7 linked regions of the Homo sapiens genome follow. The gene in region 3 interacts genetically with the main gene of each other region. Each region holds a gene or a part of one and is shown on either strand. Other genes may lie near its edges.

What was found.
Region 1: changes in IGF1R (region 3) and TRAPPC11 together harm fitness less than expected from each alone (positive genetic interaction), as found in Homo sapiens cells (one large-scale study listed by BioGRID).
Region 2: changes in IGF1R (region 3) and ARF1 together harm fitness more than expected from each alone (negative genetic interaction), as found in Homo sapiens cells (one large-scale study listed by BioGRID).
Region 4: changes in IGF1R (region 3) and CAND1 together harm fitness less than expected from each alone (positive genetic interaction), as found in Homo sapiens cells (one large-scale study listed by BioGRID).
Region 5: changes in IGF1R (region 3) and DAZAP1 together harm fitness less than expected from each alone (positive genetic interaction), as found in Homo sapiens cells (one large-scale study listed by BioGRID).
Region 6: changes in IGF1R (region 3) and RABGEF1 together harm fitness more than expected from each alone (negative genetic interaction), as found in Homo sapiens cells (one large-scale study listed by BioGRID).
Region 7: changes in IGF1R (region 3) and CHRAC1 together harm fitness less than expected from each alone (positive genetic interaction), as found in Homo sapiens cells (one large-scale study listed by BioGRID).

The regions. Positions count from the first base shown.
Region 1 is NC_000004.12:183,690,293-183,693,792, forward strand, and holds part of TRAPPC11 (trafficking protein particle complex subunit 11), read left to right. Parts: intron 1-1,023; coding exon 1,024-1,179; intron 1,180-2,667; coding exon 2,668-2,855; intron 2,856-3,296; coding exon 3,297-3,445; intron 3,446-3,500. UniProt on the Homo sapiens protein: Involved in endoplasmic reticulum to Golgi apparatus trafficking at a very early stage.
Region 2 is NC_000001.11:228,092,708-228,096,207, forward strand, and holds part of ARF1 (ADP-ribosylation factor 1), read left to right. Parts: intron 1-3,500. UniProt on the Homo sapiens protein: Small GTPase involved in protein trafficking between different compartments. Modulates vesicle budding and uncoating within the Golgi complex. In its GTP-bound form, triggers the recruitment of coatomer proteins to the Golgi membrane.
Region 3 is NC_000015.10:98,651,539-98,655,038, forward strand, and holds part of IGF1R (insulin-like growth factor 1 receptor isoform 1 precursor), read left to right. Parts: intron 1-3,500. UniProt on the Homo sapiens protein: Receptor tyrosine kinase which mediates actions of insulin-like growth factor 1 (IGF1). Binds IGF1 with high affinity and IGF2 and insulin (INS) with a lower affinity. The activated IGF1R is involved in cell growth and survival control.
Region 4 is NC_000012.12:67,307,358-67,310,857, forward strand, and holds part of CAND1 (cullin-associated NEDD8-dissociated protein 1), read left to right. Parts: intron 1-39; coding exon 40-135; intron 136-2,543; coding exon 2,544-2,713; intron 2,714-2,794; coding exon 2,795-2,959; intron 2,960-3,500. UniProt on the Homo sapiens protein: Key assembly factor of SCF (SKP1-CUL1-F-box protein) E3 ubiquitin ligase complexes that promotes the exchange of the substrate-recognition F-box subunit in SCF complexes, thereby playing a key role in the cellular repertoire of SCF complexes.
Region 5 is NC_000019.10:1,421,086-1,424,585, forward strand, and holds part of DAZAP1 (DAZ-associated protein 1), read left to right. Parts: intron 1-62; coding exon 63-173; intron 174-1,262; coding exon 1,263-1,311; intron 1,312-2,334; coding exon of another isoform or gene 2,335-2,426; exon of another isoform or gene 2,427-2,625; intron 2,626-3,500. UniProt on the Homo sapiens protein: RNA-binding protein, which may be required during spermatogenesis.
Region 6 is NC_000007.14:66,747,233-66,750,732, forward strand, and holds part of RABGEF1 (rab5 GDP/GTP exchange factor), read left to right. Parts: intron 1-3,500. UniProt on the Homo sapiens protein: Rab effector protein acting as linker between gamma-adaptin, RAB4A or RAB5A. Involved in endocytic membrane fusion and membrane trafficking of recycling endosomes. Stimulates nucleotide exchange on RAB5A. Can act as a ubiquitin ligase.
Region 7 is NC_000008.11:140,514,322-140,517,654, reverse strand, and holds the end of CHRAC1 (chromatin accessibility complex protein 1), read right to left. Parts: intron 3,287-3,333; coding exon 3,160-3,286; intron 2,530-3,159; coding exon 2,408-2,529; 3' UTR 501-2,407; downstream 1-500. UniProt on the Homo sapiens protein: Forms a complex with DNA polymerase epsilon subunit POLE3 and binds naked DNA, which is then incorporated into chromatin, aided by the nucleosome remodeling activity of ISWI/SNF2H and ACF1.

The sequences.
Region 1 (3,500 bases), on a different chromosome or scaffold from region 3:
ACTTGAACTGTGTAAGAATTTCTATGAAGGTAATTTATATGCTGGAATAGAAGATGGCTCTTGGAAAGGTCTTGATATTTATTGAACAGATGAGAATAGTGATTCCATAGATAGAAACATGAAAGCTGTCTTCCTTTACTCATCTATGAGGATTGTTCTCTTCTGGGAAGGCAGATGCACATTCACTTTGGGACGTGCTGAGTTTCAGTGGTAGTGGACTTGTCCTCTAGACAGTTGTGGATATAAGCTTGTAATTAAGGAAATAAGACAGAATAGGACAACTGTATGTGAGAGATACTAGCAACAATGGTATGGTGAACGTGGAAACAAATACATTTCCAATGAAGTGAACAGAGAGAGAAATGAAGACCTGAAAGAAAGCAAAGGAATGGGGCTGGGCTTGGTGGCTCACACCTGTAATCCCAACACTTTTGAAGGCTGAGGCAGGAGGATCACTTGAGCCCAGGAAGTTTGAAACCAGCTTGGGCAACGTAGTGAGACCCCATCTCTACAAAAAATAGAAAAATTAGTCTAGTGTGATCGTACATGCCTATGGTCCCAGCTACTTTGGAGGCTGAGGTGGGACTATCCCTTGGGTCCAAAAGGTTGAGGCTACAGTGAGCCGAGATCATGCCACTGCACTCCAGGTAGGAAAAACAGGAAGTAACCAAGCAGGATGAGAAACAGGAAAGATTATAGCATCACAGAAGCCAAGTAAAAAAAGGCTCTTCAAGAAAAGGAGGTGATAAACAGTAGTGTCCAGTGCAACAAAGAACAAACTGTTTCTCTGGGAGAGGGATAGCTAAATATTTTCAGAAAACAGTTTATGTGTAGTGAACTGTTATATTATGGCAGCAGTAAGTGGATAAATGCCTCTATTTGGCATAAAAAATACTTCCTTTTATTAGTAACCCTTCATAATGCTTCAGTGTTTGTGGAGTTATACTAAATGAGCTCCAAAGCACTTGGCATTTAGGGTTAGCAGACATCTGACATTTGATGACCCCTGTTCACCTTTTTCAGGAATACAACCAGTTCTGTGTAATAGAAGAAGCATCCAAAGCAAATGAAGTTTTAGAAAATCTGACTCAAGGAAAGATGTGCCTAGTTCCTGGCAAAACAAGAAAACTGTTATTTAAGTTTGTTGCAAAAACTGAAGATGTGGGAAAGAAAATTGAGGTTAGTTATGAAATTTGTTTTAAAATATTTTTAATAATAAAAGTATGTTTATATCAATATTTTAAATAATACAAAAGTTGATTAAGTAAAAAATGAAAATCTGCTACTTGGACTTCCTAAAGGAAACCATTCATAATAGTTTGGGAAGTTTCCTTCAGACATTTTTCTGTGAACATACTTGTAGTTTAAAATTTTTTGCAATTAAAAAATTGAGAATATACTGTACATAATAAACTGTAGCTGGCTTTTGTCATTTAATAGTGTATATTAGATATTATTTCTTGTTAGTATATAAACCAATCTTGTTTTTTAATGACCACATAATCAGTTAAGGAGTTTTAAATAATGTATATTATGTAATATAGCAAATATATTTTTTATGTTATTCAGACTGAATATCTTTTGATGTTTAAGCATTACTGAGTACATATTTTTAAAGAAAAATGAACATATATATTTGTAAAGATTGATATAGTATAGATAATTGAAATGCCTTTTAGAAATATAGGATCTAAGTAATATCTTTATTGAGCATAAACTCTGGAGCCAAACTGTATGGGTTTAAATTACAGCTCTCTAGCTTATTAGCTTGTGGCCCTGGGCAGTTACTTAGCTTCTTTGTGTCTCAGTGTATTCATCTGTAAAATGGGGATCATAAGAGTACTAATCTCTTAGGATTTCATGAGGATTAAATCAGCTAGTTAATGTAACTTGCTTGGAATAGTGATTAGCACACAGTAAGCATTCATTAAGTGCTTGTTTTTCATGACTTGAATGGGAATGGTTAGCTCATCTAAACTTGGGACCATTGCTAAGATAAATGGCATATAAAGTTATACAACCAGTGTTCCCATAACAGTTTCTGTGAACATGTTGCTTTTATTATTTGCTTATTCATTAAAAAAAAAAAAACTTTCATGATTTTGACTAAATGCCCTAATTGCATATTTTATTTTTTCATGGTACCTAAGGGAACCTACCAGACATAAATAATAATTAGTAATTCTATTTTGAGTCCTTTTGTTAATGGTTTTAGTTGAATAGATCATGTATTCAATTAATAAAGCATTTTATTGCTAATACTGTAAATATTTTTGAGAAAAATATTTGTGGAGTCGGAAATGAGGTTATAATGTATCCATAGCCATCACAATACTTATTTCATTCAGCAACCACTAATTGAACCTTCATTACATCAGGGACTATGCCAGATGTTAAAATCATAACACTACTGTGCAATCAGCCTGTCAACAGAAAGTCAGGTTAGTGTCTCTGTTTTAAAGGTGAAGAAGTTGGAACCCAGAGCGCAGTTAGTCTCTGTCCCAGCCCGAGTAAGACCTCTAATAGCAGGTGTTCTCACTTCTGTCACACTGGGGGTCTCTAGATGAACTCCATGGTCTTAGCAGTCGACGATGTAATTTTGGTGAGAGGAGATGGTGACAAGCACATATGAGATGACATTTCCAACATCCTTTTTTTTCTTTTTAGATTACTTCAGTGGATCTTGCTCTGGGCAATGAGACGGGAAGATGTGTGGTTTTAAATTGGCAGGGAGGAGGAGGAGATGCTGCTTCCTCCCAAGAAGCCTTACAGGCAGCTCGGTCTTTCAAAAGGCGACCTAAGCTACCTGACAATGAAGTTCACTGGGACAGCATTATAATTCAGGCAAGCACAATGTAAGTCTGCTTTGCTAAGCTGATATTAAAGGTCATCCTCTTATTTCTTTTGCTATTTTTTTTGGAGACAGAGTCTCTCTCTTGTCCAGGCTGGAGTGCAGTGGTGTGATCACGACTCACTGTAGCCTTGACCACCTGAGCTCAAACCATCCTCCCACCTCAGGCGCTACCCTTGCCTTCCCCAGTAGTTGGGACTACAGCCAGGTGCCACCATGCCTGACTAATTTTTGTATTTTTTCTAGAGATGAGGGTCTTACTATGCTGCCCAGCCTTGTTTCAAACTCCTGGGCTCAAGCGATCCTCCTGCCTCAGTCTCCCAAAATGCTGGGATTACAGGCCTGAGCCTCTGCACCCAGCCTCTTATTTCTTTTAAATACTTTATTTGAATAATTTATTTGCTTTTTTTTTGATCAGTTACTTAGCTAAGGTTTCTTTTCAAAGGATCATATCCAGAGTCCCAAACATTTCTGTACATCTGCTACATGAACCCCCTGCACTGACTAATGAAATGTATTGTTTGGTTGTGACTGTTCAGTCCCATGAAAAGACCCAAATCAGAGATGTGAAGCTCACCGCTGGCTTAAAACCAGGTAAGCATTCCTTTTTGTAAGTTTGATCAGTATTAATCCAACATTAAATAAGCAT
Region 2 (3,500 bases), on a different chromosome or scaffold from region 3:
GCCAAAGTATCCCTGAGATCTGCAAGGGACCGAGGACAGTACTGGCTGGTGGTCTGGGTACAGGCCACAGAGGCATCTGGACCCCATGTGCATCTGGACCAGTTTGGTTGGATCCATTCATGGACACAAAACGGATGTGAACTCACAGAGCTACATTTTCTCCCTGCCCCTGTTCAGGCACAGTGAGGTGTCGGGGAATGTAGCTGCCAGAGTTGACTGTCCCGTTCTTTGGTGTAATGCCTGAAGGCCACCTTTACCATTGGTCTGTGGTCCTCACTGAAGAAAGAAACATTCTTCCTAAAAGACTTTTTTTCCTCAGAGTTGGAGCCCACAGCGTGGTCAGGAAAGAGAAGTAGCCACTGGTGGCTCCTGGCATCCTCCTGCTGGGCAGCCCCTTCTCAAAGTGTGAGGGGTCCCCTTGTGTACAAGCAGGAAGGCTCTGAGAAAGTCAGGTTTGCTCCTACCACAGGATAATTCCGATGAACCTGAAAAGCGGGTTTTGGCTTGTGTGCAGGGACTCTGGTGGAAGAAAGGGTGACAGCACCTGGCCTGGGCATGACACAAGTTAGGACCCGTACCAAGAGGCCCTGGAATTGAGGGTGGGGGTTGCTGTGGACTCTTTCTCCCTCTTAGGAAACTCTATTGGGTCTCCATCTGTCACAGAAGCAGTAAATGATGTAGGGGCTGCCAGGTATAGGGTCCTGTGGGGATGCTGGAACATGCCGAGGCAGGACGTGCCAGCCACCCTCTGCCCATATGTGCAGCAGGGCCACAGATGTGCTTGTCGGTAGGAGAGACCAAGCTGTCTGTGTGCCGATGTCTTGACACCTGAGACTTCAGGTTCACCCATCCTGGTTCTGCCATTCCATTGCAGGGTGGCTTCCCTCCTTTGGGGACTCTTAACGCTTTGGTCTGTTAAAAAAAAAAAAAAAAATCCGGGCGTGGTGGCTCACTCCTGTAATCCCAGCACTTTGGGAGGCCGAGGTGGGCTGATCATCTGAGGTCAGGGGTTCGAGGCCAGCCCTGACCAACATGGTGAAACCCCGTCTCTACTAAAAATAAAAATAAAAATTAGCTCAGCGTGGTGGCACGCGCCTGTAGTCCCAGCTACTCGGGAAGCTGAGGCAAGAGAATCTCGAACCTGGGAGGCAGAGGTTGCAGTGAGCCGAGATCGCACCTGAGAGGTTGCAGTGAGCTGAGATCAAGCCACTGCACTCCAGCCTGGATGACAGAGTGAGACTCTGTCTCAAAAAAAAAAAAAAAAAAAAAAGCCACCAATGGGGAGGGCCTGGGATTACTGGCATCACAAACCCCACTGCCTGCAGGCTGCATGATCTCCTGGGCATGGTTGGCGGCACTGCCCCGGGCATGAGGAGGCAGCAGGCATGTGTGGATCACGGACAGTGCTGGGGTCGAGGGGGTTGGTGACGGTGTGACACCCCTTCCCCTGAGTGGCTGGGTGTTACTGTCAATTCTCCCAAGTGCTGTGCTTCAGTGGTCGTGGCAGTCTGGTGCTGCCTCTGCCCAACTGGCAGGCGACCCTTATTCCTGAGTCCCTGCTGACTTGGTGTCCTAGGTTTATTCCTCCTAGACTTGTTAACTTGTACAGTTAACAAGCCTTTGACACCACACACCCTCGCCTCAGCTTTCCAACCCCCTAGTAATAACAACATCAGGACTCCCTGAGTATCCTCCACCATATGTTTTCCTGGAGTAACTCATAAAAGGCCCTCTTTTCGTTCCATTTCATGCTTGGGTTTTTCATGCGAACCTGTCATTATTAGTTTTTCCGCATTGCCTAGAGTTGCCCAACCCCATAATAAGAATACGTAGGTGGCGTGCCCCATTCTTGCAGGTGTCCACTTCCTGCTCCAGTCTGAGGGGGTTGGCTAGGCTGCTGCTCTCTCTCCATGTGGGGTTGGCTAGGCTGCTGCTCTCTCTCCACGTTGCTGTGGGCTCGCATCCTCTCCCTGGTTCCCTGGGGGAGCTTCTTAGGGAGGGAGCATGTGAGAGATCTGAGGCCCTGCAGTTTGGGAGTTATTTTCATTCTCCCCTAACACTTGTTGGATACTTTGGCTGGGTATAGAATTAAAGGGTTTCGAAAGCAGTGTTTCAGAGTCTTCCATTCTCTGGGGCATCAGAGGTGTCATTTGCCCCTGTGCATTCTGGAGTCCACCTTGCACCTTTATTGGGTCTCATCTAGGTCCTTGGCTTTGCGCTTCAGCCCTTTGAGGCCGAAGCCCAGATTCCTGGGTCCCCACTCTGGAACAGGGAAAAATTTCACCCCGTAATTTCGTACGTTCTTTCTTTTTAGGGTTTCTGTTGGTTGATATCTTAAGTTACTCCTCATCTTCCTTTTTCATTCTGTTTGTTTTTGTTCTGCCTTCTGAGCACCTTCATTTTGAATTTTCCTTTTCAGCTATTTGTGTATCTATCAGGTTTCTCTCCTTGTCCTTTGTTAAAATAGTATTCTGTCTTCAGTCTCCTGTCTTGGTTGCCTCCTTGCAGATTCCTTTTATATTTGGGTCTCTTATGTTGGTGGCCTTTCAAAGGCAGACAGGCCTGTCTCTTGGTGGGGGGTGGGGGTGGGCGGAGCTCCAGTTGCTTGTGTGTGGATCTGCTGGGGCATATAGAACTCTCAGGAATTATTCTGGAATTTCATGGCTCAAGTGTGTTGTCATGGCTCAGCGCAGGCCTAAGCCCTGCTGCAGCTGCTCCCCTAGACCAAGCTTGTCCAACCCTTAGGCCGCATGTGGCCCAGGATGGCTTTGAACCCGACCCAACACAAATTTCTAATAAAACATTGAGATTTTGGGGGTTTTTGTTTTGGTTTGGTTCACCAGCTGTTGTGTTAGTATATTTTGTGTGTGGTCCAAGACAATTCTTCTTCCATTGTGGCCCAGGGTAGCCAAGATTGGACATTGCTGCCCTAGGCAGTCCCAGCTTCATCCCTTGGGTCCCAGGCGGTCCAGTTTTCTCTGCCTGGTCAATCATCACATCCAAGGTCTTCCTCCCTTTTCTCTCTGCCCTTCAAGGCGTGTGTGTCATTTTGGTGTCTTCATTGGTAGTGGTTGCAGGAGTGGACTGAGAGGGCAGGTATTCAGTCTCTTCTGTGCTCCATGGGTGGTGGTCTTCCTCTGGGCTTAGAAAACCTGGCCGTCCCCAAAAAGGGAACACTACAGTGAAGGTCCTTATAAATTTCAGAACTCATTTAAATTTCAGAATAGGTGACATGTTCAAAACCAAGAGCAAAGTGTCCAAAGGACACTGATCCAGCTTGAAGGGGTTCTGTGGCTCATCTGGGATGATGGCAGTGTTAAATCAGACACGGGCGGCCAGTTCACACCCACTGAAACACACAGGCATGTGTGGGCTCTTGCTGATGTTGAGAAATGGAGAAGAGGCATTTCCTTGCCGTAGCGTGCTGGGGTGACTGGATGAGAGAGTCACCAGCGGACAGTCATGGCTGTGATTCAGCCAAAAGCCACCTGTGTGTGGAA
Region 3 (3,500 bases):
AGCTTCTCTAGTTTTGTGTTTTTAATGTTCTGAAATTCAAAACAGCAGGGATGGCCTTCGCCGACGCAGGAGTCGGGCATTTTAAAATAGGCTGTTTTTCTTTTGGAGCGTTCTTCTTGAAGGATATTCTTTGTGCAAGACGGCGATTTTTGAGAACACAGGCAGGAGGGAGGGGGTGTTTTAATGTATGTTTTTACTCCATGATACCAAAGCTTCCCCCCAGGATCCCTTTACAGTGGTTAGTTCCTGGAAACCTGATGGGTGGTCAGAAGGCACCCCAAATCTCGATTATGGTTTGCTGAAGTCTTGACTGACTCAGTACCTGCCCCTCCCTCCATCTCTGAAATGTGGAGAATTAAAAGCTATGCCTGTGAACGGGCGTTCAGTTTTTAGCCGGGAAGGTGCTAGACCACTTAACTCTGATAGAAATAAGCTGCTGAGCCCTATCAGGGAGGGCGTTCTTTCAGCTGTTGTCTGGTGGAGAAATAAAGACAGGGTGTTGGTTCAGTTGCAGGTATTTTGCTGGCGTATTGAGAGATTAGAGTTTCCTCTTTGAGTGTGATGGCAGTAGAAAGAGTGTTGTTTATCTTAGAAAACTTAGTTTCTGAAGCAGAGGCAGTCATATGGATGTGTTTGTTTTGTATCACCATAATGTGAACAGAGCATCTAAATGAAGGCGGTTCGGAGGTTCTGAGTGATAGCCAGATAATCTGAGGGCTATTTTGTTTTTAAAAAGTCAGCATGCACTTTAAATTTATTGTACCCATCTCCTTAAAAGGATTCAGTCATCTTTCTACCCCAGGCATCCTGTTGTCACAGAAATGTAGGTATGTGAAATGTTGGTGTTTAAAGAAGTTAGTGTTTTATTACCAGAAGGAGAACCCAGAAAAAGAACTTCTGAAAGAACCTAAACAGCAAATTATAGTTTAGATCCTCTGGAGAGACATAGCAAGCAAATGGTGTTTTGTGGAAGGGTGGGGTTTGTGTCAGGATTTGAAATGTAAAAGGTCATAATGTTTGATTTGTCGAAAAAGATTAGAAAAGTTCAACTCTAAGAAATATGCTAAGGTTGAATAGATGAAGCTTAAAAATATCACAAAAAGTGAAAGAAGTCAGTCACAAAAGACCACATATCGTATGATCCGGTTTATGTGAAATGTCTAGAATAAACAAATCCATAGAGGCAGAAGGTAGATGAGTGGTTGCCAGGGGCTGGGGGCGGATGGAATGGGGAGTGACTGCTGGTGGGCACAGGGTTTCTTTTTGGGGTGATGAAAATTGTTCTAAAATTAGTTTGTGGCGATGGCTGCATAGCTCTAAATATACTTAAAACCATTGGATTATGTACTTTAAATCGGGGACTTTAATGGTATGTGAATTATATCTCAATAAACCCTTTTTTTTTTTTTTAAAGAAATGTGATCAGGTTGAAAATAACTTGTTATGCTACCTTAAATTACGTTAAAATTATTACATACATTTGACAGGCTGATGTCTCTCTCTCTTTTCATTTATGAGTTTTTCAGATCCGTGAGTTGCAGCAATACAACAAACTGATAATTGAAGCTTAGCAACAGGGATTCAATCCCGCAGTAGAAATGGGCAAGCAGGAGAAAAAGAATCTTGGTTCTATGTAGCTTCAGTTAGGGATTGAGGAGCTGGATTTAAAAAACACAAATGCTGGTGGAGGGCAGATTTTTGACAATAGAAACCTCAGCTGAATCTGAAATGATGGTTTTTTTCAGGATAGAGTTTAGGAGCTGAGTCTGAAGGGCTGTTTGTATTTCCAGTTTTATTATGTTTTCCAACAAAGAAAGACATTGCTGTTTTAAGATGTTTTAAACACTCATTTTTTGATATGCCACATTGACCACAAGTGGTAGTAAGGACTGAGGATGAACAGAACAGTTCATTTTAATGCAGTATTGTTGTTTCTTTTCTTTGCAGTTTTATTTTATTTCTTACATAGTTCCAGGGTCTGAGCAGGAGAAAGAATCTTTAGGATGCAGTAGTTTTAGGATACACTGTTTCAAGTATACAGTGATTTTTATAAAATTAAAATTCCTTACAGAACGAAAGGTTTTAAAATGTGGCAAAGGCATTTTTGTTTTGAAACTGTGTGCATTTATCCAGATTTACCCTGGCCTTTCAATAGGAAAAGACCTAGAGAATAATTGTTGTTTACATTTGCTTTTGGTCTTTGTCTAAGGCTTAGTTTACTAATAAAAATGTTTCCTGCCCTTCCTATTGTTGCAAGATCAGGGCAGTAATGAAAATCAACTGTATCATTTTCACTTGTTGCCTTAGAGTTTTTGCCAAGAGGAACCCTCAAGGGACGGTGGTTTCCTTTTAAATCTGGTTTCATTTGTTTTGTAAGAATGTGCTGTAAGAAGCAACTGAATCCAGCCTGCACTTATTGTGCACCTACTGTATGAAAGCTGACCTTGTGCTACTCAGTGCATGAACCTGCAGAGTCTTGCATGAAACCACCTTTCTTGAAATTCAGATTTTTTTTCAGACTCAGTATAGGGTGCAGTTTTCAAGTAGACAGTAGTTAGCATTTTAAAGGTTCTTTTAAAAATATTTCTGTAGACTTAGGACTCTAGTGTTGTTCATCAGAAGCCTTTACCCTATACCTTTTTTGCCTCATTGGTGCTTTCCGTTATATTGGGATGTCACTGTAGACTGTGACATACAGGTGATGTTAACCCATCTTGACTGGCGGCACTGTCTTCTTTATAACATTGGATATGGCAATTGTGATTTACAAACTGCAGTGTTGTAGTTGCCTTTTTCCAAAAATTAGGAGTCACAGGTGTGTACATGAACGTTGCATAGCATGTTTTGAGTTGTAAGAAAGATGGAACTTATTTCAGAAGTTTTCTGGATTACATATTGCTTAGTTAGCTTTCTAGAAATCAGGAAGCATTCATAATTTCAGGGCATTTTATAATTTGTAAATAACTTGGTGTTTTTAAAAGCGTGAGGGAGTAAGAGTGAGGAGACAAATCCTGAAAGTTTTTGTTTTTTAATTGTAAAGCATACAAGATACATTTCTTTATAGGTTGTGATTTTCCCCAATTTGTTTTCAAAACTCATTTAAAAATCAGACCTAGTTCATGGAAGAGGTATTTGCGCCTGTGGGCGAACTTGATTTGAACTGCTTTTCTTAGCCAGCTTAGGACAGGTGCTGAGTCCAGGGGATGAGCTCTTCTCAATTGTACTAAATATATAATAGTTGCACACATGTTACGGATATAGTTTCTTGATTTCCAGTCTGAGATGTTCTGAAGGAAAATTCTGAACACTTTAGAGACAACAAAGTGCCTAATGAGTGATGCACTCTGATCCCTCCTGGAAAATGGTGTTTGGCATCAGCTTAGCAAGAGGAGGTTTTCCAGTTATTTGTAAAGATGTGATGTGGCTTTAAGTGGGGATGGGGGAGGGTAGCAGCCCCAGTGTTTGTGGACATTGAGACCTGTTGACATTTGGGAAGCATA
Region 4 (3,500 bases), on a different chromosome or scaffold from region 3:
GACTACATACCAATAGACTTGCAATTTATTTTTAACTAGGCTCATCATATGCCCGAAGCTCAGTGGTTACGGCTGTGAAATTTACAATTTCTGACCATCCACAACCTATTGATCCACTGTTAAAGAACTGCATAGGTAAGTGGAAACAAAGATAAACATACTGATTTTTGGACTTTAGAATTCTCAAGAAACTCTTGAACTTAGTAACTAGAAATATCGAGGAATTAAAATGCTTATAAAATAATTGTTTAAAAGAAAATTGATATGATCTTACAACTTTTAACAAATTGCATTTGCCTGTATTGTTTGTAATTATTCCTAGATGATTTTGCACATAAATGAAGTTATAATATACCAGCATGTCTTTAGAGTCAACTACATATTTGATAGCCATATTTTTGGGGTGACCTAAGATAGCTTTAGTGGATAAAGCAAAAAGATACTAGATTTATATGGCCAGTCTGAAGTTTCTCCCTAGATTTAAATGAGTCTTGCTTGAGCTATTAAGGCCTCAAATTTCAATTATTACTTCTAACACCCAAGGAGATCTATGGAGATTTCCATATTTAAGGTCAAAATAACCTAAGAATAAAAAATAAAGGGGGGGAGAGCTAATTCCCAGAAGAACTAAGAGGAGATAACCCAAGAAAAACTAGGGCTTCTCTATTTCTGTGAAGACAAGAATTAGCTTTTGGGATTATTTCTGATTTTATAACCTCCTTGCATTTTGTTTTTATCATTGGTTTTCCTAGAGTTTGATAATAGCCAAAAACACCTCAGAATTTAGTTTGTTGCTTTCTTGAGGACAGGATAATGGAGATAACCATCAGGGAGGATTGAGGGATTTGGCAAAGAAGCTTTGTAGCTTTGTGCCATTCTTCAGTGTGCCAGAAAGAAAAAAAATACAATATAAAATTTGAACTGCATAGAAAGGGATTGCCAATTCAGAATAAGGAAAGCACAGGCACAAATGGGTTCTATTGCTAGGGCCTAGAAATTATTTAAAGTCTATATGAGAAACAACTTATTGGCATTTCCCCCACACATTTTCTGCTTTGATATGTTTATTGAGGACATTGGTATTATGCAAAATAGGACAGAGGAAGAGGCCCATGCCATATCTCTAGAAATATCTTTCCATGTTGACAGCAGTCAACCAGTATGCATTGTTGATACAGTTACTCAGCCAGGTAGTTAGCATTCTAATTGAATTATGATCTAGTTAAGTATTCATGACTATTTGAACATCAGAACCACCTGGGAAACTTTTTAAAAATTGAAATTGCTAGTTCATGACACCATTTTGTCCATAATAGCAATATTTTAGATGCTTTACTGAAAGCGGATATATACTCTATTGTAATTACTCTTCTAATCTACCAGTTTAGTATGCAAATAAAGGGGAGGGGAGATTAGTTTGGTACATTTATATTGTTTTTGAAACCACGCTGTTTCTCAGACTTTTTTTTTTAAATCAGTGCTGGAACTTTCTTGGATATCAACATTGGGTTTCCCAATCTACAGTATCTGAAGTCTCTCTTTCCTCCCATATTTTCAAATTGCAGGTTTTTCAAGTTGGCATTCAAGTCTTTTATCTCTCCTACATTTCCCTGTGTATTCTAAAAGATTGCTGATGATAGAGTTGAGATCATATAATGATGAATAATAGCTACATGTGAATACTTAGTGTGTACTAGACATTGTCTTCAACAATATATGCGCCGTTTATTCTGCTCAGTATAGCTCTAAAAGGTTTATAATCCTCATTTTATTGACTGAGAAACTGAGGTTCTTGCCTAAAGTAACTTGCACAAAATCATACATTTAACAAGTAAAATGATTTGAACCACCAACCATGTGACTCCAAAGATCTTTGCATTATACTTTCTTGCCCACATTTGCAAGAGTAAGCAGACTTTTAAAATACCTAGATGGCTTCTCTGGCTTTTGTCCTATGTTAGCTTTCAATTTTCTCCTTTTATATTATTTTCCTGTGAATTCGTGTATTTCTTACTGAAGACAGAAATAAAGTAGGGCTTTTGGAGGCACGTTTCTCTTTCATTTGATTAATTGTATATCTGCTAATAGTACTCCATCTTTATTAAGCAGTGGGTCTGTCTTCACTTCATTTTTTTATTCTTATTTTGAACTTAGTTTAAAAATATTTTTGTTGCTGCTTTTAGTGAACTACAAGGAGAATCAAGCATGTGATTAGTCTTTTTAGCTCTGTCTCTGTCATATCTTATATCTATAGAAGTGATATTGAGGAACTTTATGGACTCTTCTTCCATACCCTCTGCATTATAAGTGCTGAGAGTGGATTATCAATTGAAAATATATTCACCTTCAGAAATGATAGTTGCGTTGCTGCTGAAAGAAACGTTATGGTTCACTTAGTGTTTCATCAGGTTCTTCCCTGACCGTCACTGAAGAAATAACAATGACACCAGCAAAAATAAATTATATCAACTTAGAGAAAATATAATGTATATTGTATTTTAAGTTTATCATGTCTGTCTGTTGCTTTTCTTGTAATATTTCAGGTGATTTCCTAAAAACTTTGGAAGACCCAGATTTGAATGTGAGAAGAGTAGCCTTGGTCACATTTAATTCAGCAGCACATAACAAGCCATCATTAATAAGGGATCTATTGGATACTGTTCTTCCACATCTTTACAATGAAACAAAAGTTAGAAAGGAGCTTATAAGAGAGGTAAGTTAGATCACACTGTTTATTTGAGCTTGTCTTTGACTTAAGTATTGTATATCCACACGTTCTTTTTTGCTTTAACAGGTAGAAATGGGTCCATTTAAACATACGGTTGATGATGGTCTGGATATTAGAAAGGCAGCATTTGAGTGTATGTACACACTTCTAGACAGTTGTCTTGATAGACTTGATATCTTTGAATTTCTAAATCATGTTGAAGATGGTTTGAAGGACCATTATGATATTAAGGTAAGATGTTTGTGCCTATTTATACAATGTTTTAGAAGAAGACTTTGCTAGAGCAACTTTCACCCTTGTAATTTACTCATGTGTCTGAGAAAAATCAGGTTGTCTGTGAAGATTTTGATAAGCATATTGTAAACTATAAAGTGCAAAAGTAATAGGCAGTGTAACACCAGTTGACGTGTAAGAAAGATCCAGAGCCCTTTTTATTGGAGGAGGAAGTGGCAGTGGATGCAAAATGCTGTGTGCCCACTTGCTTAGTGAATAGTCCCTAGATCCTTTCCCTCAAAAAAGTCCCGACAGATTTTGCTGTTTAAAGTATAAATCTGTAACTTTTTGGCCTGTCTTAACATTGGACCATAGTTGCTACCCATGGAGGGTTTTCTTAGCATTGTCTTGATTAAGTCTCCTGAGCTACCTTTGGGGCTAGTCTGAATTGTAACTGTATCATTTACCTGAATGAGGAATTTTTGTTTTTCAATATAATATACTGTGTTTAATATCAAGAATTTTGTTATAGGACATGGAACTTTTCAGATATACAAAA
Region 5 (3,500 bases), on a different chromosome or scaffold from region 3:
CAGCTCGCGGGAGGGTTTGGAGGGTTCCCGTGTGAACTAACTATCCTTCCCTTCTTCAACAGCAGAAAGGACCCAGGAGCGATAACAGTAAATCAAATAAGATATTTGTCGGTGGAATTCCTCACAATTGTGGTGAGACAGAGCTCAGGGAATACTTCAAGAAGTTCGGAGTGGTGAGTTTCTCCCCACCCCGGCAGCACTGTGGGGACAGAGCCGCTTCTGCTCAGGCCTGGGCCTTCTTGGGGCTGGAGTGGCCGAGCCACAGGTGCACGGGCCTTTCAGGCTGGGAGCTCGCTGTCTCGTATTTCCCCAACGCCTGCGCCCTCCGGAAAGGTGGAAAGCCCGGCCTTTGCCTTCATGGCCATTTCGTGTCCCAGTAGGGTGGTTGGGCGGTGAACCAGCCTGACAGCCTTCAGGGCGGCCGCCCGATTCCATTGTGAACACCGTGGGGTCCAGTGTCAGAGAAGGGCAGTTACACAGAAACGGGGTTCAGTGTGGCCTGGGCGAGCCAGCCCCACAGAGCTGACTTTCCACTGGGCAGGTGGGAGAATGCCCGAGCTCCGTTGAGCCCAGTGCCAGAGGGAGCTGGGACAGCCGGAGGGGGCCGGCGGGGAGCCCTCCTAGTCACCCAAGGCAGGGGCGTGTGGTCACCCCAAGGTCCTGCTGGGACTCCTGCCGTGCCCCGCAGGTCACACTCCGAGCCCCGCCAGCAGGACAGCCCTGCGTGCCTGAGTACTGCGCACGTTCATCAGGTGGTACCTGAGGGTGCCACGGGCCTGGGCCAGGAATGAGAGGCCTGAGCGGGGCCTGGAAGAGCAGGGTCTGCAGAGGAGCTGTGTGTGGCTGCCCCGCCACTTCGAGTGAGGGCCGAGCGTGCCCTTTGCTTCCCGCGTTTGGGTGGGAAGGGCTTCTGTGGGGTCTCCTGGCTCCCACGTCCCCTGCTAGGATGCGTGGTCGGCGTTGTTGGCCCTTCATGTCCGTCAGCACACACGTGAGCGGGGCCACGGGCAGCCCGGAGGCGGGTATCCAGACGCCTGCCCTGGAGCTGCTTCTCCCTGCCTGCGTCTGGCCCTGGGAGTGTTGGGGCTCCAGCCTTTCTCAGACAGCAGCCCCACGGAGCAGCTGTTGCCCGTGCACCTCCCCCGCTCAGGGAGGGCGCACCCTGTGCGAGAGTTTGGGTTCGTGGGAACAGGCTGTGCCCTCGGAAGACCACCTGTGGTGCTGGCCCTGGTGTCCGTGCTGACGCCACCCTCTCCTTCCAGGTCACGGAGGTAGTCATGATCTATGACGCCGAGAAGCAGAGGCCCCGAGGTAAGGGCAGATCTAGTTTGACCTCGGCCTTCTCCCTGCTCCTCCCTCAGATGGCAAACTATCTCACCCGCCAGGCACACACAGGTGGCGGCTGTAGCAAACAGCCTCAGGAAGGGACGATTTGGAGACAAATGACTAAAACGTGGGCTCCTCATGTGCACCCCATTCAGCCTGTCTGTGCTTCCCGAGGTCAGACGTCACACATTGTTTTTTGGCTTGTTCTTTTGAAGTTTTTACGACTTGTCATGAGTCTCGGCCTGGCTTCTGTTTTTCACTGTCCGGAAGAGTGTGGTCCTTCTGCATTTGACCTTCCTTCACCCTCATCCAGTCCTCCCAGTGTGGCCGGTCTCATTTCGTGTCGTCAGCTGGGTCAGCTGGCTCGGTGTGGAGTTTGGATTTTCCGTGATCCATCCCATGCTTTTTTTTTCTTTCTTTCTTTTTTCCTTTTCTTTTCTTTTTCTTTTTTTTCAGTTTTCTCCCCTCTCTGAAGTCAGCAGGGCAGGTGGGAGGAGGGGTGAGGAGTCACCTCAGGGCCTCCCCTCATTTTCCCTCAGCTTCTTGCACACCCATCCATGCTGGTTTGTGGAGCTGGGACGATGGGCGCCCAGTTTCTGTGCCCCTTTTCCGTGGCTGCTGCTGTCTGTCCCGCCCGCCCGCATGGTTTTGGTTCATCAGCTGCTTTTGGCCGGCCACGTGAGCAGACCTGCAGCCTGGGTCTGCCCGCCACGTCCGTGCCGCCCCCGCACCACCGGCCCAGGTCAGTCGGGGCAGCCCCGAGCGCCAGGTGGCGCCGCAGCATGCCCACCATGCTGGAGCATAGTTTGCCATTTGAACCTCCCTCCCCACGGTTAGGAGTGCTCCTCCTCCATGTCGGTTACGCTGTTAAGTCTTAGTCGTAACTTAATTTAGACATACATGCTTAGTGACGTACTTAAGTGTTTCATAGTAAAGTACAGTGATGTTAAGTAAGCTGTTTTTCCTTTTCTCTCTGTGAATTGTGTGTGATTAACGATATCTCTTTAGATTTCTCTTCTCCAGGTGCTAAATTATATCACACAGGTACAGGCCAGTCCCGCAGTCAGAGGAGGGAGCGGCTTTGCTCCAGTGGGGTGTAAACGAAGTTTCAGGTGTTTCTGTCCCGCTTCCTCAGTGGTGATGTCGCCTCTTGACAGCCGCATTCCTAGACAGCGCTCAGGGCGCCTCCCCCAGGACCCAGCGCCTCTTGCACTGTGCCCGGACCAGGCGAGCCCTGTGGTTTCAGACACTCCTGCAGTTTGCGAAAATGTCTACTTCTAAATACGTTGTTTCATCACCGATGCTGTGTTCCAATACTGCCTCTGATCTTGGGAAACTTGAGCGCGCGGGAATCTGAGGGTTGCTTCTAGATCCTCCCGGTCCCCCTCCGGCTGCCCAGAGCTGGCGCCCCTTCTCCTCGCGTCCTGTCCTGTCCCGTGTGGACGGGACGTGGCGAGTGTCGCTGAGTCCACACTGGTGTACAGAGCACTTCGGGGCCAGCACGTGGCCACATGTCCTTAGCTGTTGGGCTTTGAAAGTGTCCCTTGGGTGTCAGGCGAGTGGAGGGCCGGAGAGACGCTGCGGCGCTGCTTAGCGGGTCCTCCCAGAGAGTGTGTCCCCTTCCCTTGGCCTTTCTGCATCTTCTGAGACGGGTCTGTGTCCCCCTCCCCGCCACCTCCTCCCTCTTCCTCTCCACTGACTGAAGGTCATGGCCATGTCCCTGTCAGGGACCCCGCCTGTGTCTCGGGCACACAGTGTCTGTGCGGGTCCCTGCTTGGCCCTCCCACGTCTACCCTCGGCCCGCCCGCTCCAGCCGCTGCCTCGTTCGCCTCTCAGTCCCCTCAGGTCTTCTCCATCCTGCGCTCCTCTCGCTGTGTGCCTTGCCTTCCTGGTCCCTCCTCCTCTTCCTCCTCCTCTTCCCCCTCCCCCTCCTCCTCCCCCTCCCCCTCCCCCCTCCCCCTCCGTCTGGTTGCAGACACTGCGTGCACAGTCACGCTCAGGTGCACACGTGTGCTCAGGACGGTGGGAGGCTCCTGAACCACAGTGACCTTTGTCCCCTCACAGTCTGAGCTGCCCTTTCTGCCCCGTTTCCATCTTTCCCCGCCCCCAGTTTTGCTTGTCCTGTTTCTGCCTGGTCCCAGCTACAGCAGCCCTGGCCCCTGTCTCTTCAGCTT
Region 6 (3,500 bases), on a different chromosome or scaffold from region 3:
GCGTAAAATATTACACACTGAGAGAGTATTAAGCTTTTTAATTTTCCCCCAGTAACAGTGAGCAGATTGCTGAAATCTCTGAAGCAGGAATGTAACAAGAGTTTTGAGGGCTCTAAATTCTCTGCTGTTTCACCCTAAGGAATGGTTTGGCAGCATCCTCTATGCTAGGCACAGAACAACTCAGGAGGAATTGTACAAAGACCTTATGAACCACATTTGAAGCTAGTCTGTTCAGTTCCCATTCAAAATAAATACACAACTGTAATTGAATTTATGGTGATTTGGTCTGTATGCTAAAATTAAAAATCGCTTTTGGGGGATTTTCACATAGGGGTATATTTATAATTTTCTGTGTGCTTTGCAGTTAAAAATACATAGTGAAAGTTTTATTTTTGTAGTTCCTCTGTTGTACAGAGGAAATTTAAATTCTTAAAATTAGAATTTTCTAATTTTAAGCACTTTCATTTTTCCTTTAGAAGGTACTTTGGAGCACATAAAAGAAAATGCCATTAGAAATTGAACATAGAAAATGTTTATTAATCGAAGAAAATGTTTTCTTATTGTGCTATAATTTTTTTCAGTGGAACATATCATTTACTTATTCCATTATTCCACATCTTGTTCCAGAAAGGGTTTGTAATGACTTACAAAGATACGTGCGACATACTGTTGGTAACATAACAGATAAGTGGGTGAGGAATGCAGGACTGAGGGAAAATTAAGATGGAAACAGGAATGAGCTGTGTACACAGAGCACTTGGACTGAAGTCTTAAGTGCAGAGGGCCACAAATTTGGCTTTGCTTTTGAGTAGCCAATTAAGAGAGAAATATAATCAGTTACATGGGTCAGTGACCATACGACAAAAGAGATCATTTCTGCTTTGGATTCCCAAAGACTTTCCAGCATGCGTTTCAAAGGGCTGGGTGTCGAGTTTTACTTTGTGTGTTAGTAAAACTCCTTATTGGCTTTTTGTGTAAGACGGTGACATAACATCAAAACATTCCGTAAAAGCATTTCTCTTGCCTGCAAAATAATGTGATCCGAGTACTTAGATCTCTAGGCTGATTTAAGGATCTGTTTTAGATTATCTAGATGAGTAGGTGGATTGCACATTCTTCACCTACCTTCCATACTTTCTCAGTGGATCTTTTGTAATGAATTTATCAGCAGTGGGGTTTGAGTTTGTGCTTCCTCACAAGTTCCTTGAATGCATCTGTTTTCTGTTGTTGGTGAATCACGGAACCATATGTTTTAACAGGCATGGTTTATCGTGGGGGTATCACGATGGAACAGTCTGACAAGGGCACATATTTGTTTGTTTGTTTTTTGAGGAAAATCACTTTATTCTAATTAACTCAACAAAGAATAAAATCATAACGGCTAGTTCAAGGGTGCCACACAAACATCTACCCAGCCATCTTAATGAAATTCTACACAGTAAGAATTTCCTTTTCCATTGCAGTCCTGAAGCAGGGACGCTATGAGAGAGGAGAGGTTTACCTGATGATTACACTTTATACCTTCACTATCAATTGTATTTTTGTGCTAAATCACTTGGTTATGAGAGCTGATTTTCCATTTCTCCAATTCGAACTTTCTGATTAGACCAATCTGTTTGCAAGTCTGCACTGTTTCAGCACCTTATTGAAACCCTCACAGAGTTTTCTGTCACCCTGGTTCTGGGCACTCTCCAAAAACTGTTTTATGTCATAAGAGCAAGGCCGCTGCTGCTTTGCTGGCTGGGTTCCCTGAGGCTCTTGGTAGGTGATATCAGGCCTTCAGGCTCACCGTGACTTCCTCCACTGAAGCCCTGGTGGTGGCATGACCCAGTGTATGTCTGACAGGGGCACATATTTGAATGAAAGCCACCTCACCTCCATACAGAGATGGGCTGAGGGAATACCAAATATGAAGATGGGAGCAGATCCAGATCTACTCGTCTCAGATGAAATGTCCAGTAAGTTGTATTGCCTGTATTTTGCTCCAGCTGAACAGTTGCACTTTCAAGTAATAATAGTTCAAATTTATCAAATGCTAGCAGGAGCCATGCATTGTGTTAATGGAGAGAGACCATCCTTATTCACTCTTACTCAGTAAACAGTGGGTGAAACTGCCCTTGCCTAAATATAGTTATGTAATGCTGTGTTTCCTTAATTGTATATCCATAAAGCTTTTGACATTGTTTTCTAAATGTGTTCCTCAAAAAGGAGTTGGGCTAGTGACCAAAGTTTTGAATAGAATATTGTAAGAAAGCAAATACAAAGTGTAAAAACAAAAAACAGAACTTTGCGAGGTGTTGTTCACCTGTAGTCCCAACTACTTGGGAGGCTGAGGCAGGAGGATTGCCGGAGGTCAGGTATTAGAGGCTGCAGTGCACTATGATTGTGTCTGTAAATAGCCACTACACTCTAGCCTGGGCAACAAAGCAAGACTCCATCTCTAAAAACAAACAAACAGGCCAGGCACGGTGGCTCACACCTGTAATCTCAGCACTTTGGGAGGCCAAGGCGGGCGGATCACGAGGTCAGGAGATAGAGACCATCCTGGCTAACACAGTTAAACCCCGTCTCTACTAAAAATATTTTAAAAAATTAGCTGGGTGTGATGGTGGGCGCCTGTAGTCCCAGCTACTCGGGAGGCTGAAGCAGGAGAATCGCTGGAACCTGGGAGGCGGAGCTTGCAGTGAGCCGAGATCGCACCACTGCACTCCAGCGTGGGCGACAGAGCGAGACTCCATCTCAAAAACAAACAAACAAAACTACAGAATAATGAAATAGAATGTCCAAAATTTATCATAACTGGTGTCTCACGAGATAATACGTTTGGGTCCTGTTTAGCAAGTTGGATTATATTTTTATTTGTGTAAATTTATTGGCCGTTGCAGTTGGGGTTGTATTGAGAATGTAGATTTTGTCTGATGAGAGTGTAGATTTTATTTGTAGTGAGTGCATGTGGATTTTTATTTGTCTAGGGTTTTAAAAGTTGTATAGTCATGAATGGACACTTTTTAATACCATCTATGAGAAATTCAATGGCAAAGTGTTTTCATACCCATATGCTAACTGCTGATGCTTTTTATAAAACATTGTTAAGGTGTTACTTGCCCCAGGAAATACAATGTTTTATGACAGAGACAGTACTGAAATTCAGTATTTAAGTTCTTTAAATACCAGCTATGTTGAGTAGATATTACTTTCTCCCAAGAGCCTATTTTTGGTTTATGACATATTAGGGAACAAATTGCAGACACAGTTTTTTCATTACCTGTAAGAGCACTTATAGGATGTAAGCTATTTCCTTAAAGAGGAATTTTTGCCTTTTTAATACTTCTGTCTAGTAACTCAATGCATTAAAAGATACATATTTTTCTAGTGCTATAAATATATTGGTACATTTAAATATAATATACACACATATAATGGTGCTTGAGAAATAAGTTGAGATTATTTTAAGGTTAAGGTTCTTAGATTCTGACAGAAAAACTGATCAGCCAGTTGGA
Region 7 (3,333 bases), on a different chromosome or scaffold from region 3:
TGGGCGGATCATTTGATGTCGGGAGTTCGAGACCAGCCTGGCCAACATGGTGAAACCCCATCTCTACTAAAAGTACAAAAAAATGAGCCAAGTGTGGTGACGCCGTGCCCGTAATCCCAGCTACTCAGGAGGCTGAGACCCAAGAATCGCTTGAACCCAGGAGGCGGAAGTTGCAGTAAGCCATGATCATGCCACTGCACTCCAGCCTGGGTGACAGAGTGAGACCCTGTCAAAAAAAAAAAAAAAAAAAATTACAATCATCAAAACTAGAAACAATCTAAATGGGTAATTATCCATATACCTGGAAAATGGATAAACAGATACATCCATACAATGGAATCCTACTCAGCAATATAAAGGAATGGACTGCTGATACCTGTGACAACACGGATGAATCTCAAATGCATTCTGCTAAACAGAACAACTGCAGACTCAAATGCTACATACTGAATGATTCCATTTATATGACATTCTGGAAAAGACAGGCCACCAAACTGGTCTGTAAGCCAAATCAAGTCATTTTTTAATGGCACATAAGCTAGCAAGTATTTACATTATTAAATGGTTGGAGAAAACAGTATTTCATGACACATGAAAATTACACAAAACTCAAGTTTCAGTTTGCAGAAATAAAGCTCTATTGAAACACAGCCACCTGCATTCCTTCATCTAGTAATTACCTGGCTGCTTTCGTGCTACAACAGCTGAGTTCAGCAGCAGCAACAGAGACTATAAAAGCCCACAAAGCTTGAACTATTTACTGCATGGCCCTTTCCAGAAAAAAATTTGATGACACCTGGTATAGGGACAGAGAATAGCTTGACGGTTGCCACGGTAAAAGGTGGGGAAGGAGCTGACCACAGGGAATTTACTGGAGGGTGATATAGCTGTTAATTGTGGTGGTGGTAGTGACTTGACTGCATTTGCCAAAACTCAGAACTGTACACCAAAAAGTAGATTTTAAAATATTTTATTTTAAAATAAATGTCAATGAACAAGAGGGACAGAAAACACCAGTGGTTGCTAGGGGGCAGGAGAAGAGAGGAACAGAGGAACAGAGGGGAATGTCCTGGGTGGCAGAACTGTCCTATCGATTGGTTACAAAACCATGCATTTGTCAAAATTCACAGACTAGACACTAAAAAGGGTGATTTTACTGAATGTAAATTATAAACTTTTTCATTTTTAAAAAAGAGATAATGAAGGCCAGGCATGGTGGCTCACGCCTGTAATCCCGGCGGCACTTTGGGAGGCTGAGGCAGGTGGATCAGTTGAGGTTAGGAGTTTGAGACAAGCCTGGCCAACATGGTGAACCCCGTCTCTACTAAAAAATACAAAAATAGGTTGGGCATGGTGGCACACGCCTGTAATCCCAGCTACTCAGGAGGATGAGGCAGGAGAATCACTTGAACCTGGGAGGCGGAGGTTGCAGTGAGCTGAGACAGCGCCACCGCAATCCAGCCTGGGCAACTGAGTGAGAATCTGTCTTTAAAAAAAAAAAAAAAAAGATAATGAAATGAGAGGAGCCAAACATTTACCCTAAGTGGAAAAAAAAAATTGGGCTTATGATAGGTTTTCTCTTATAGACAGTAAAAAGAAGTGCCAGGAATTTAAAGCAAAGAACAGTAAGATGAGAGAGATCTCCAATATACAAAATGTTTCAAAATTTTTTTTTAGTACAACATGCTTATACAAGAGGTAAGACTTATTTTTGTATTTGATTTGATAATTTGACTTGGAATTTTTCTGTGGGAATAAAAGTGTTAGAATGCTTATTTTTAAATTTCTCAAAATTTGCAGGCAGTAAGCAAGGCCTTAAAGCCATAGAGGGCTCTAAAACTAGTTCCATAAAGCATTTTACTGTAAAAATATGTACAGATCTTTAATAGAAAAGTATATTTCTTTACAGTAGAAAAATATCTGAACAGTCAACTTTTCTTAAGACAAAAATTCAAATGTAACATACTACCTAAACTATAAATTTAGCTAAAACTGAATCGAGCTGTTTATAAGAACTGATTCCAAAATATACATATATGAATTTACATAACCGATATGTAGAAGCTCTTCAAAATCGACTGTAAATTGAAAAGTTAAAATTGGCCTTGCCTCTGCAGTTTGGAGCTGCAATGGCTGCCAGTATCGGCTGTTTTCTTGGTGCCTGAGCTGCAGGGTGGGCCTGTCGAGGAGGGGCTGCTGTCTGGGTCGCTTTCCCTCTGGCTGTCTGTGGCGTAGGTACATGAGGTGCTCAATCTCGGCCTGGAAAGAATACCTCGAAAGAATACCACACACTGGAACTCTGTGAAGAAGTGAAGACGCTAAAAGCGGGCAGTGCTGTGTTTACTTAGAGACAGTGGAGTGGGTCCAGGGCTGTCCTCGCCAGGCTGGTTTTTAAAGCACTTTTGGTTTAGGAGTCAGCTTCATCATGGTCACTTTCATTATCATTGTCATTCTCCTCATCTTCTTCCCTCTTTTCCTCTTTAAGCATTTTCAGGTATTTACTAGCTAAAATCTTCTTTGGTAATATATCTTAAAAACATAAAGCGTACATCAGCAATTGGTTATGGTAGACTATGAACACAGCAATGCACATTTCAAAATGTACTAGTTCCTGCTTTGACCTCTATAAGAGGTTCCAAAACAAGATGAAATTCAGGCTGCATTTCTGGGTAAAATATCAAAGAAACTAGCATTGTCTCCTAACGAACGCTATAGGCCTCTTTCCAGTCCAATGAGTACAAACCATGGTGTCTCTATGAGCTGCTTTTATGAGCAACCCTGCCCGACTACCTGAGATAGCCTAGGCTAGCCCCAGGGTAGACTTAAGCTCTAACTACGGCCATGTAGACCCACCCTGAGTTTTCCCTTCAGTGGCAGGCAGGGTCCCTGTAGAGAGTAAAGGACTGCCCAGCATACGCGGCCAACCAACATCTTGTGAATGTTGTTGGCTTCACTATTGTTCTAGGTGGACCACATGACAAACACATTCAAACAGAGAAGACTAAAAGTATCTTCCTGTGACAACTCATAGTACTTTGCGGCTTGGAAAAAGTAGCAAAAAGTCTAATTTTCCGTGAGAGCAGAAGGGAGGCAAGGGGTGGGGAAAGAGCTATTGATTACTAATCATTTTTTAACCAGAATGTTTCAAAGACTAAGTACCTGCAAGAAACTGAAAAGTTTCTGATTGCTGTGCAGTGTTTGCTAAATCACTGTAAGTCAGTACTTTCTTTTCCTTTCCACTGCCGTGTCTGTAGGAATAGGTGGCTAGGCATTGAACAAAGAGCTCCTAGAACAAAATGAAAAATGCAAATGAAAGGTGTGCTTTGAAAATGT